4 separate regions of the Homo sapiens genome follow, and all the other regions are linked to region 2. Evidence: fine-mapped expression QTL. A gene starts in region 2. Each other region holds a variant in brackets. All regions are shown on one strand. Distances are between the middles of the regions.

Evidence for each region. PIP is the estimated chance that this variant, and not a neighbour inherited with it, causes the effect. A credible set is the group of variants that fine-mapping cannot tell apart.
Region 1: its variant is the best candidate, but not a certain one, in a credible set for the expression of ADPGK in whole blood (INTERVAL, PIP 0.82).
Region 3: its variant is the best candidate, but not a certain one, in a credible set for the expression of ADPGK in whole blood (TOPMed, PIP 0.56).
Region 4: its variant is the best candidate, but not a certain one, in a credible set for the expression of ADPGK in blood mononuclear cells (TOPMed, PIP 0.70).

Annotation. Positions count from the first base shown.
Region 1 is chr15:72,700,104-72,702,789 of GRCh38, forward strand. All of the region lies in intron 2 of BBS4 (Bardet-Biedl syndrome 4), which reads left to right. Among named protein-coding and RNA genes, the nearest start is that of BBS4, 15 kb to the left of the region's middle. The variant C/G (reference allele first, on the strand shown) is at 1,031.
Region 2 is chr15:72,782,239-72,784,924 of GRCh38, forward strand. It overlaps ADPGK (ADP dependent glucokinase), which reads right to left and starts at 1,520. Exons shown (of 7, transcript NM_001365225.1): 1 at 1,221-1,520. The coding sequence starts at 1,453. It overlaps ADPGK-AS1 (ADPGK antisense RNA 1), which reads left to right and starts at 597. Exons shown (of 3, transcript NR_040107.1): 1 at 597-2,686. RefSeq lists enhancers at 896-965, 1,726-1,785, 1,836-2,045 and a silencer at 1,216-1,675.
Region 3 is chr15:72,725,256-72,727,919 of GRCh38, forward strand. All of the region lies in intron 8 of BBS4 (Bardet-Biedl syndrome 4), which reads left to right. Among named protein-coding and RNA genes, the nearest start is that of BBS4, 40 kb to the left of the region's middle. The variant G/A (reference allele first, on the strand shown) is at 1,651.
Region 4 is chr15:72,729,202-72,731,881 of GRCh38, forward strand. BBS4 (Bardet-Biedl syndrome 4) reads left to right here. Exons shown (of 16, transcript NM_033028.5): 10 at 415-483; 11 at 2,104-2,256; 12 at 2,354-2,525. Among named protein-coding and RNA genes, the nearest start is that of BBS4, 44 kb to the left of the region's middle. The variant A/G (reference allele first, on the strand shown) is at 1,354.

The sequences.
Region 1 (2,686 bases), 82 kb before region 2:
TAATTTTTCTATTTTTAGTAGAGACGGGATTTCACCATATTAGCCAGGCTGGTCTTGAATTCCTTACCTCATGATCCGCCCGCCTCAGCCTCCCATAGTGCTGGGATTACAGGCATGAGCCACTGCACCCGGCCTGAACATTTATTTACTGGTTTTTTTTGTGTGTGCATGTGTGTGCAAGTTTTCACTTGAATAAGTGCCTAGGGAGTGGAATTGCTTGGTCATATGTGAACTGTTTGTTTTAACTTTATAATAAACTGCCGAAGTATTTTCCAAAGTGGTTGTACAGTTTTACCCGACCGCCAGCAACGTGTGAGGATTCTGTTTGGCTACATTCTTGCCAACATTTGTTACTATCAGTCTTTTTCATATTAGACTTGCTGGTGGGTATATTGTGTTTTATTGTGATTTTAATTTGCATTACACTAATGACTAGTGATGTTGAACACCTTTTCATATACTTATTGGTCATATCTTTTGTGTAGTGTCTGCTCAAGTTTTTTGCCTATTTTTAAATTTCTTTTTTCCTTATTATTGATTTGTGAGACTTCTTAATATATTCTGAATGTACGTCCTTTGTCTGTTATATATGTGGTAAGTATTTCCCCCCAGCCTGTGTTTTACTACTTTCATTTTATTAAGGTATCTTTTGATGATCAAAAGTTTTAATTTTGATGAAGGCCAATTTACTATTATTTTTCTTTTGTTATTAATGCCTTCTCTGTCTTGTCTAGGAAATCTTGATCCTTACCCCAGACTGAGTTGTGTGTCCTCTCCCTTTTCTGCATTAATATTGCAGAAATTAATTTTTTGGTTTTAGAAAATGTCTAATTTGGCTCAATCAGTAATTTTTGATATCTTTCTATTGAAATATATATACAGAAAAGTACATACATAAATCATAATTGTACTGTGCAGTGAATTTTTACAAAGTAAACATATCCATGTAATCACCATCTAGATTAAGGTATAGAATATTATCAGTGCCCTCCAGGCCGCCTCCTTATTCCCTACCAGTCATTAACCACCC[C/G]TCCCAAAGGTAGTAACTTGTATTTAACTTCTATCTTCTACATCAGTTTTGCCTGCTTTTGAATTTAATGTAAATGGAATCATGCAGTGTGTACTTTTTAATATCTAACTTCGTTGCTCAGAATTATGTTTGTGAGATTCATTTATGTTGTTGCATGTAGTAGTGGTTGGTTGTTTTCTTCCTTGTTATATATATTCCATTGTGGGGCTCTACCTAAGTCTATTCATTTTATACTTGATGAACATTTGGGATATTTTTATTGTGATGTATTATGAATAATGCCACCATGAAGAGTCTTGTACATGTTTTTTGGTACACATACATACTTAGGAGTAGGATTTTCAGGGTCACCAGGAAGGATATATTTAGGCTCAGTGAATACTAGCAAGCAATTTTTAAAATGCGGTCAATATAATCCCCATGTGTAAAATAAAGGTGTACAAACGCACACACACACACTTGCTCATATGCTTATATGTGCATAGAAATTCCTTGAAAATACTCAAGAAATGCTTCACCTCTGGTAAGGGATAGGAATGGAATGGGTCTTTTGTTTAGTATCCTATGTGCCCTTTGAATTTTGTTTTACTGTAAGTATGTATTTTTAAGAAAACCAACTAGTTATTTTTAAAAATCATTTGAAAGTCTTCCTACTTTGATATATGAAAAACACTGGTTTTAAAAAAAATAATAGAAAAGCTTTAAAATCATTATTATTTTTTTGAGACGGAGTCTTGCTCTGTCGCCAGGCTGGAGTGCAGTGGTGCGATTTCCGCTCACCACAACCTTTGCCTCCCGGATTCAAGCAATTCTCCTGCCTCAGCCTCCCAAGTAGCTGGGACTACAGGTGTGTGCCACCAGGCCCAGCTAATTTTTTTTTTTTTTTGTATTTTTAATAGAGATGGGGTTTCACCATGTTGGCCAGGATGGTCTCAATCTCTTGACCTCGTGATCTGCCTGCCTCGGCCTCCCAAAGTGCTGGGATTACAGGCGTGAGCCACTGTGCCTGGCCGCTTTAAAATCATTAATGTTGCGTTGCTCAGTTATGTCTAATTGACAGCCCAAACATTTACATTGTAATATTAGAAAATCCTTTATGATTGGGCAGAAACTTGGTTTAATGTGTCACCTTGGAGACCTGGGTTATAGTCCTGCCTCTTCCATTAACTACTTGTTGAATGTGGACAATTTACTTAACCTTTAGGGCCTTAATTTCCTCCTTTATAATGTGAGAATGTTCTCTGAATTGCATAACTCACTGGCCTTACGTGACTATTCAGTGGAATAATAAGAGAGAAAAACTTTGAGATACATGCACACACACCCTTAAGAAGGATATAATTGTTAAATTTTGCTTTGAGGAAATAAAATAATCTAAGCTATAAAGTAAAACCATAATTAGCTAATCTTTTATATGACTTTTTTCTTCCTCATTTCAAGCTAATGAGAAGCAAACAAACTGGATAGCAGCAATATAATTAAAAAATTATAGGCCAGCTTCTAGCATGTATTCTTGAGTCAATACTGACTCAGCCCAGTCTCTTCCTCTTCCTTCATCATCATTTATGTACCTGAACAGAGTAGATGTTTCTCTTGATCCTGGGCCTGTTCGCCCTCAGATCCATTCCTTGCCTTCTCTTCTCTTTTTGGTATAGT
Region 2 (2,686 bases):
AAGCAAGGAAGGACAATTTAATCCCAGCACTTTGGGAGGCCAAGATGGGAGGCTGGCTTGAGCTCAGGAGTTCGAGACCAGCCTGGGCAATATAGCAAGACCTCGACTCTACTAAAAAAAATAAAATAAATAAAAAATTGGCTGGGCGTGGTGGTGCTTGCCTGTCGTCCCAGCTACTCCAGAGGCTGAGGCAGAAGGATCTCTTGAGCTCGGGAGTTCGAGGCTGCAGTGAGCAGTGATTGCACCACTGCACTCCAGCCTAGGCGACAGAGAGAGAGACCCTGTGTCCAAAAAAAAAAAAAAAAAAAAACCCCAAAATTATAGCTAATATCGAATGCTTTTTAAAGCAGGCACTATGCTAGAGAGATTACATGAATGATGTCATTTAATCTTCAGGCCAAGTTTGCTCTACTTTACCCCTCCCGGCCCCAACACTCCACAGAAAGTAGTGAGCTACATGGTAGAGGGCCTGCTTTTATGTGGTGGTTATACATAACTCTGAGATTACGGCAAGAAAGTCAAATCGAACTGAGACAGGGACTAAAGTTAGTGTTTACAGTATCAATACTATAAAGAAAATAATTACATTCCCAAGGAAAAGTACAAAGAAAGGAGGTAGTGTCATTTGGAAGAACCTTAAATATGCAGTGTCACTGAAGTCAGGGGAAGAAAAGAATTTCACGGAGAAGGGCGTGTTCAATGCGTGGAAGGCTGCAGAGTAGATAATGAAGATTCAAAAAGGCAAATCTGAGAGGAGTTGCAGTACAGTCGTGTGGTTTCTAGACTACACGGCGTTTCGAAAGTGGGTAAAGGCAGACATCACGCGTCTTCAAGAAGTTCAGAAGAAAGAGGAAGAGTGTTGTCATAGTGGGTAAGGTCAAGTATCTTTGATTGCAAAACAACAGTCGCCAGAAGAGAAGGGGCTAAAAGTTGGAACGAGGAAGAAGGCTCGGAGAAAGGTGTCAGACAAAGCGGGATTAGCAAGAAGCTGTTAGGGCTGGTCCTACCGGGATGAGAGAAAGGCGCAGAGGCCAGCCGAGTGGAAAGAGCAGCGGTGACGAACCGGGTTCCACTCAGACGTCCGACACTTCTCGCCAAGGGGCCAGCGCGGACAGCAGCGCCTCCCGGGGACCTCTGAGAAGCCCTGTTTCTGCGCGGCTCCGCCCGACCTCCAAGGCCGACCTCGGAGGCTCAGAGACCCAGGCCCCGTTGGCACTCACCCCACTGCCACGCGGCGCCAGCGCCGGACTGGCCGCACGATAAGCGCGTCCCAGGCTGCCGCCAACCGGCCCTCGGGGGAGACGGGTCCCGGGGGCGCAGGCGCGGGCCCCAGACACAGCGAGCTCCAGAGAGAGCGCAGCGCCGAGCCTGGCAGCTCTGGCTCCAGCAGGAAGACGCAGCCCACGGCCAGCGCCAGGAAGCCCGCGTACGCGGAGCCGCGCCACAGCGCCATGGGGACCCAGGCGCCGCACCTGCGCGAACCAACTCCTTTCCTAGCCCGCGCCTCTTCCGGGCTCGGCGCGCGCCGATGTCGACACAAGCGCTACGTCACAAGGGTGCGCCACGGGGCCCCCCAAGGGGCGGGGCGACGGGCGGCGCCAGGACGGAGCGAGGGGGGACCCCACGCCTCAGTCCCAGGCCTGGCACTGCGGTGTTGCCGCCCCGGAGGAGGTGGGACAACGGCGGTTGTGCCAGTCCGGGCGCTGCACCCCCTTCCCGGAACTCTAATCGTATCCCCAAATAGAGGGATGGGAACACATTTGCTTTCGCAGTAAAACGAAACGGACAGATTGTGAAGAAGCGGACAAACCTCGCGTTAATATTCGAACCAGTGGGTGTCCCCATTGGCACGGATCACACCCCCATCTTTTAATCCCTCCCTCCGCCCGTGTCCCCTCATTTGCTAGACTTGTCCTCTTCCAGGCCTAGTGCTCGGCGCTTCTGAGAGGAATAGGCTCACAGAATAGCGGCGCTGCCGAGACCCCTGGGGTACGCGAGGCAGGGGGATTCCGCCCCTTTGGAAGGTGGCCGAGACCCTCAGCCACTAAAGGACTTCGTCGAGACAGGAGAGCCCGCAGAGATCGTTCTCTTCTGGATAACCAGATTATTCCACAATCAAACTTTAACCCTTTTGGGGGCGCTGTTCCCTTTAACAAACTCTGGAAAATGTACACAATCTTGTGCACAACACGAGAGTTATGGACCTGGGTTGAGAAACGCTGCTTTCTTTTGTTCCCCCTTGGTGACATCACTTAAACCCAGCCCTCTCTTCGCTGATACTTTTCTGTGCATGAGGCTAGGTTGAGAGACAGTGAAGCTAGGCTGGGTACCAGCTCATTCTCATCAGCCACAATGCCCGGCCTAGTCTTGTTCCCTGGTTTGTTTCCACTTTTCCAATTCTCTCGGCTCCTGACCTTGGCTTTGTGTCCAGTTTTCCACTGTGACCCTGACCTTTGGACTTGGCAGCGAAACTTTATTTCCCTAACTTTGATCTTGGGCATTAGTCTTCATTCTCCTCAGCCCCACCTCATCAGAACTTCCCCATCCTGGTCATCTACCTTCCCGCAGTTCATCCTACCCAGCCTACCTGACCATGCCATCCCTTTCGACAAAGATATTCACACAGGAACAGATTTGGGCTACCTTGGAAAAGAAGCCAAAGAGCCAGTCAGATCTTTATGAAGCC
Region 3 (2,664 bases), 57 kb before region 2:
ACAGGGTCTTGCTGTGTTGCCCAGGCTGGTCTTAAACTTCTGGGCTCAAGCGATCCTCCTGCCTCAGCCTTCCAAAGTGCTGGAATTACAGGTGTGAGCCACTGCACCTGGCCTTGGTAATAAGTTTTAAATGACCCAGAAATTGCACACATCGTTCCTGCTTACATTCCATGGTTCAAAACTACATGATAGTTACAAGGGAAGTGGGCAGACATGCACTCAAGAAGAAGGAAATAACAGATTTAAGAGTTGGCCGACAGTCTGCCATTTTGGTATCATATGTTAATAACAGATCTTCTGTTTTCAGAGATATTATTAGGGACAGAAATCTCCTGATTCAGTAAAAAACAAAACAAAACAAAACAAAACATTTGGCCTTATTAGCATGAGACCAGTATCTTTTTTCCCCCTTCCCCATTTTCCCTTCCCCTTCCCCGTTTTCCCCTTCCCTTTCCCCGTTTTCCCTTCCCCCTTTTCTCTTCCCCCTTTCCCTTTCCCCCTTCCCCCTTCCCCCTTCCTCTTCCCCTTCCTCCTTCCCTCTTCCCCCATCCCCCTTCCCCCATCCCCCTTTCCCCATCCCCCTTTCCCCATCCCCCTTTCCCCATCCCCCTTTCCCCATCCCCCTTTCCCCATCCCCCTTTCCCCATCCCCCTTTCCCCATCCCCCTTCCCCCTTTCCCCTTCCCCCTTTCCCCTTCCTCCTTTCCCTTCCCCCTTTCCCCTTTTCCCATCTCCCTTCCCCTTTCCCCTCCCTCTCTCCCTTCCTTCCTTTTTCTCTCTTTTCTTTCCATCCTTTCCCTCCCTCCCATTCCCATCTTTCTTTGTTTCTTTCTTTTCTTCCTTTCTTCCTTCCTTTCTTTCCTTCCTTTCATTTATTTCAACAGTCTCGCTCTGTCGCCCAGGGGTGAGTGCAGTGGCGCGATCTCGCCTCACTGCAACCTCTGCCTCCTGGGTTCAAGCGATTCTCATGCCTCAGCCTCCTGAGTAGCTGGGACTGCACGAGCACGCCACCACCCCTGGCTAATGTTTGTATTTTTAGCAGAGACAGGGTTTCACCATGTTGGTCAGGCTGGTCTCGAATTCCTGGCCTCAAGTGATCTGCTTGCCTTGGTCTCCCATAGTGCTGGGATTGCAGGCGTGAACCACTGCGCCCAGCCTTGTGTTGTTACTTTTAAATGGGATAGCTGTAGCAAAATGCCTTGTCTCATTTGTTTGGTCCCTTAATAGAATGTCTGGTCTGTGGTTCAAGGCTTATTATTCCTAATAATTAGATTCTGAACTAAACTTAGATTTCTATTAATTTGTTAATCATCTTTGTCTTCTACCATGGTAGTAAATTTTCTGGTTATATCAGTCACAGCACTGCTTTCTGAATTTTCTTCAACCATATTTTGTGTCTAAAACAGAAAAATCCCTTGGTTTGTTAAGCTACAGAACAGACTTTTGTCATCAAGAGGCTGTATATTTGGGCAAGTAGTAAGGAGCCATGTAACATGTTCAGTGCCTCTGTGGTGCTAGGTAGTAGCCCTGATCCCTGACCCCTGCCTTCTAGAGGTTAGCTCTTTGAGAATAGCATACATAAATCCCAAGGGGAACATTCTTCCAGTAACTGATCAAGGACTTTGGTCACTAAATTTCCTAAGGGAGAAAT[G/A]TGGACAGCTAAAATCTGAAGCCTTACTGAGAAGATAGAGACCATTGTTCATGACCTACAGCTTTGAAGAGAGTAGTCATGTTGTAGTGGGGAAGCCAATATTGCTAGAATTACAGAAGTTACCTGGCTTTGGGGAGGGAAGTGATCAAAGTGGATGTTTATTATGGCAGAAAGTGAAAGGCGGATTCCCAGTTGAATTGAGAAAGCTCTGTTTGGTCAGCTCAGGCCTCCCCTGGCTGGGGCTTTGCATCTTCTGGTTCAGGTCTTCCTATAGGTAACCAGTGCCCTATATCATTCCTTAGAAGCAGAAGACATTGTTCATAGCCCTTTGGTGTTTTACTGTTGAAACTGTCTGATGATCCTATGGTCAGATCATCTCAACTCAGTGTTGCCTTGGTTTTGTGACAAAGACAAATACTAGTGAGGGATTGAGCAGGCAATCCCTGATGTGAGTATTTTACTTACATCAGTGTTTACTCCCAAAGGTCAGTAGCACCTTCTTTCCTAGGATTGGTATGTATCTTCCTTCTTTTGTTTAGTTTGGCTACTTGGTATAGCTCTTTGTTTAAGTGGAGAGAACAGCATTAGGGGCCTTGGGATCCTAAATTACATAGAAAATTATGCTGCCTGGCATTGTGAGCACAATGAGGATAGAAAAAAAATTCCACAAGAGAGGACTGGTGAAACTGTGTGTGTTCTAGGCTGACTTGGTTTATAAAGCATTGTTCTTTAATTTTATCAGTGTGACCAAGACAGTCATGCAAAACATTCTATAGGTTCTTTCTTAGGACTTTTACCCTAAGAAAGGAATCTGAATTCTAAGCCTCATTTTTCTTGCTGAGCAGTTCTCCTTATCACCAGGGTTGAGATGACCTACTTTTGATGGCAATTCCCAAATTGCCTTCAGGTATTTCCACGGGGAGGAAGAGGCTCAGTGGGGTCTGTCAAGTATTGCACGAGGGCATATTACTGTGCATGTGTCTTCGTGTTTCTCATCTACATCTTGTTTCCCTC
Region 4 (2,680 bases), 53 kb before region 2:
CAAAAAAGCCAGAGCATTTCTGTTCTGGGTGAGGTTGGCCAGACTGTTTTTTTTTTTTTTTTTTTGGAGACGGAGTTTCACTCTTTTTGCCTAGGCTAGAGTGCAATGGCGTGATCTCGGCTCACTGCAACCTCTGCCTCCTGGGTTCAAGCGATTCTCCTGCCTCAGCCTCCCAAGTAGCTGGGATTACAGGCATGTGCCACCATGCCTGGGTAATTTTGTATTTTTAGTAGAGATGGGGTTTCTCCATGTTGGTCAGGCTGGTCTCGAACTCCTGACCTCAGGTGATCCACCCACCTTAGCCTCCCAAAGTGCTGGGATTATAGGCATTAGCCACCACGCCTGGTCTGGCCAGACTCTTTTAACTGCCGTCTCCTTGCTGATGTAAATTGTCTTGTTTGCTTTTTTTCCAAGCTCGGCATTTACCAGAAGGCATTTGAACATCTTGGCAATGCACTGACTTATGACCCTACCAACTACAAGGTATTACAGGCTGTGAAGGCTCTGGCCTTCATATAGACGGTCCCACTGCTCCTAGAGGTGATCTGACCCTGGAAAGCAAAGGAATAGCTTCTTAAATTTGGATACCTGAGAAATAGAAAAAATATAAATAAAAGGTGGCTCTTCTTATTTGAAAATAGTGTCAAGTATGCTCTACTTATCTTCTAAAAGTGCACATTTGTTATAATAGACGTGTAACCCCTGCAGAAGGCAGATCATAGTGCTAGTAAAGCTTATGTGTTACTTAGGAAATTAGCAATGCCTCCACAACTATTGTCAAAAATAAATCTGCGGCCCGGCGCGGTGGCTCACGCCTGTAATCCCAGCACTTTGGGAGGCTGAGGTGGGCAGATCACGAGGTCAGGAGATCGAGACCATCCTGGCTAACACAGTGAAACCCCGTCTCTACTAAAAATACAAAAAAATTAGCCGGGCGTGGTGGCGGGCGCCTGTAGTCCCAGCTCCTCGGGAGGCTGAGGCAGGAGAATGGCGTGAACCCGGGAGGCAGAGCTTGCAGTGAGCTGAGATCACGCGCCACTGCACTCCAGCCTGGGTGACAGAGCGAGACTCTGTCTCAAAAAAAAAAAAAATAAAAAATAAAAAAAATAAATCTGCTGGGCATGGTGGCTTATGCCTGTAATCCCAGCACTTTGGAATGCTGAGGCAGGAGGATCACTTGAGGCCAGGAGTTCAAGACCAGGCTGGGCCACATAGTGAGACCCCCATTTCTACAAAAAAAATTATCCAGGCATGGTGGCACACACCTGTAGTCCTAGCCACTCGGAAGGTGGAAGAGGGAAGATCACTTGAGCCCAGGAGTTTGAGTCTACAGTGGGCTATGATGGCACCACT[A/G]TACTCCAGCCTGGGTGACAGAGACCCTGTCTCTAAAAAGAAACAATAATTATGTTGAAATGACTTCTAGAGTCCTAATGATTTGATACTACAACTTTTTTTCTAGATGTGACTTTGGGAATGAGAAGGAATAGCATCAAATGGATGAACATCATTGAGGAGATGCAGCAAGACAAGCTGTTTATTAAAGGATACAAACTGAATTCTGATTTAGGAAGTAACATTAGACTGTCAGCTCCCACCTTGATACCTTTCCTTAGAGAAATGAAAGGGCTGGGCTGATGAAGCCTAAAGCTGACTCGCCCTCTGTTCTACGGTAGAAAGAAATTTACCTTAAGTAGCCACGTACAGGTGTATTTCAGGTATCTAGAACACTTGGTATACCAAATAGGGGCTGCAGAGAACAGATTAAAGGAAGTTTTTACTTAAAGGGCTCTGGTATTCATTCTGAAATACTGACTTTCCTGGCTAGAAGTAGGAAACAGATGGGTAAAGCAAGTAACATTTTATCTTTTTTTTTTTTTTTTTTTTTTTTTTTTTTTGTGCTGTGCCAGAGAGCCACAGTGTAGAGTGCAAGGACATTCCTCAGGAACATTTGTCCCAATAGGTTGGATATATTTATGTCCCTGGAAGAAATTTTCCAGTCCCATCTATGCTGATGGGCCTGCTGAGTATAGACTCAGGAAAGCTGCCCCACTGCTACAGCCTTTTGGGAATGACTGAATGACTTTCTCTGTGCCATGTTTTCAGGCCATCTTGGCAGCAGGCAGCATGATGCAGACCCACGGGGACTTTGATGTTGCCCTCACCAAATACAGAGTTGTGGCTTGTGCTGTTCCAGAAAGTCCTCCACTCTGGAATAACATTGGAATGTGTTTCTTTGGCAAGAAGAAATATGTGGCGGTGAGTGTCCCCTCATGTTCTTTGTTTGTATTTCTACATGTGGTTATTGGGTCTGTTTAGCTTGCCCTTCTCATTGAGTGCCCCTTCTCTCTCATAGGCCATCAGCTGCCTGAAACGAGCCAACTACTTGGCACCCTTTGATTGGAAGATTCTGTATAATTTGGGCCTTGTCCATTTGACCATGCAGCAGTATGCATCAGCTTTTCATTTTCTCAGTGCGGCCATCAACTTCCAGCCAAAGATGGGGGAGCTCTACATGCTCTTGGCAGGTAAGAAACATTTATGTGGAAAACTCTCTCTGCCATCTGTAATGAGGGAAAAATGGATTAGAATCATAGAAGATCAGTGGCTGTCTCATAGGAGCCATTCCCTTAGAGATCCTGTAGGAATCTGGATTACTGTCCTGGAGCTTGAAGAAATAGAA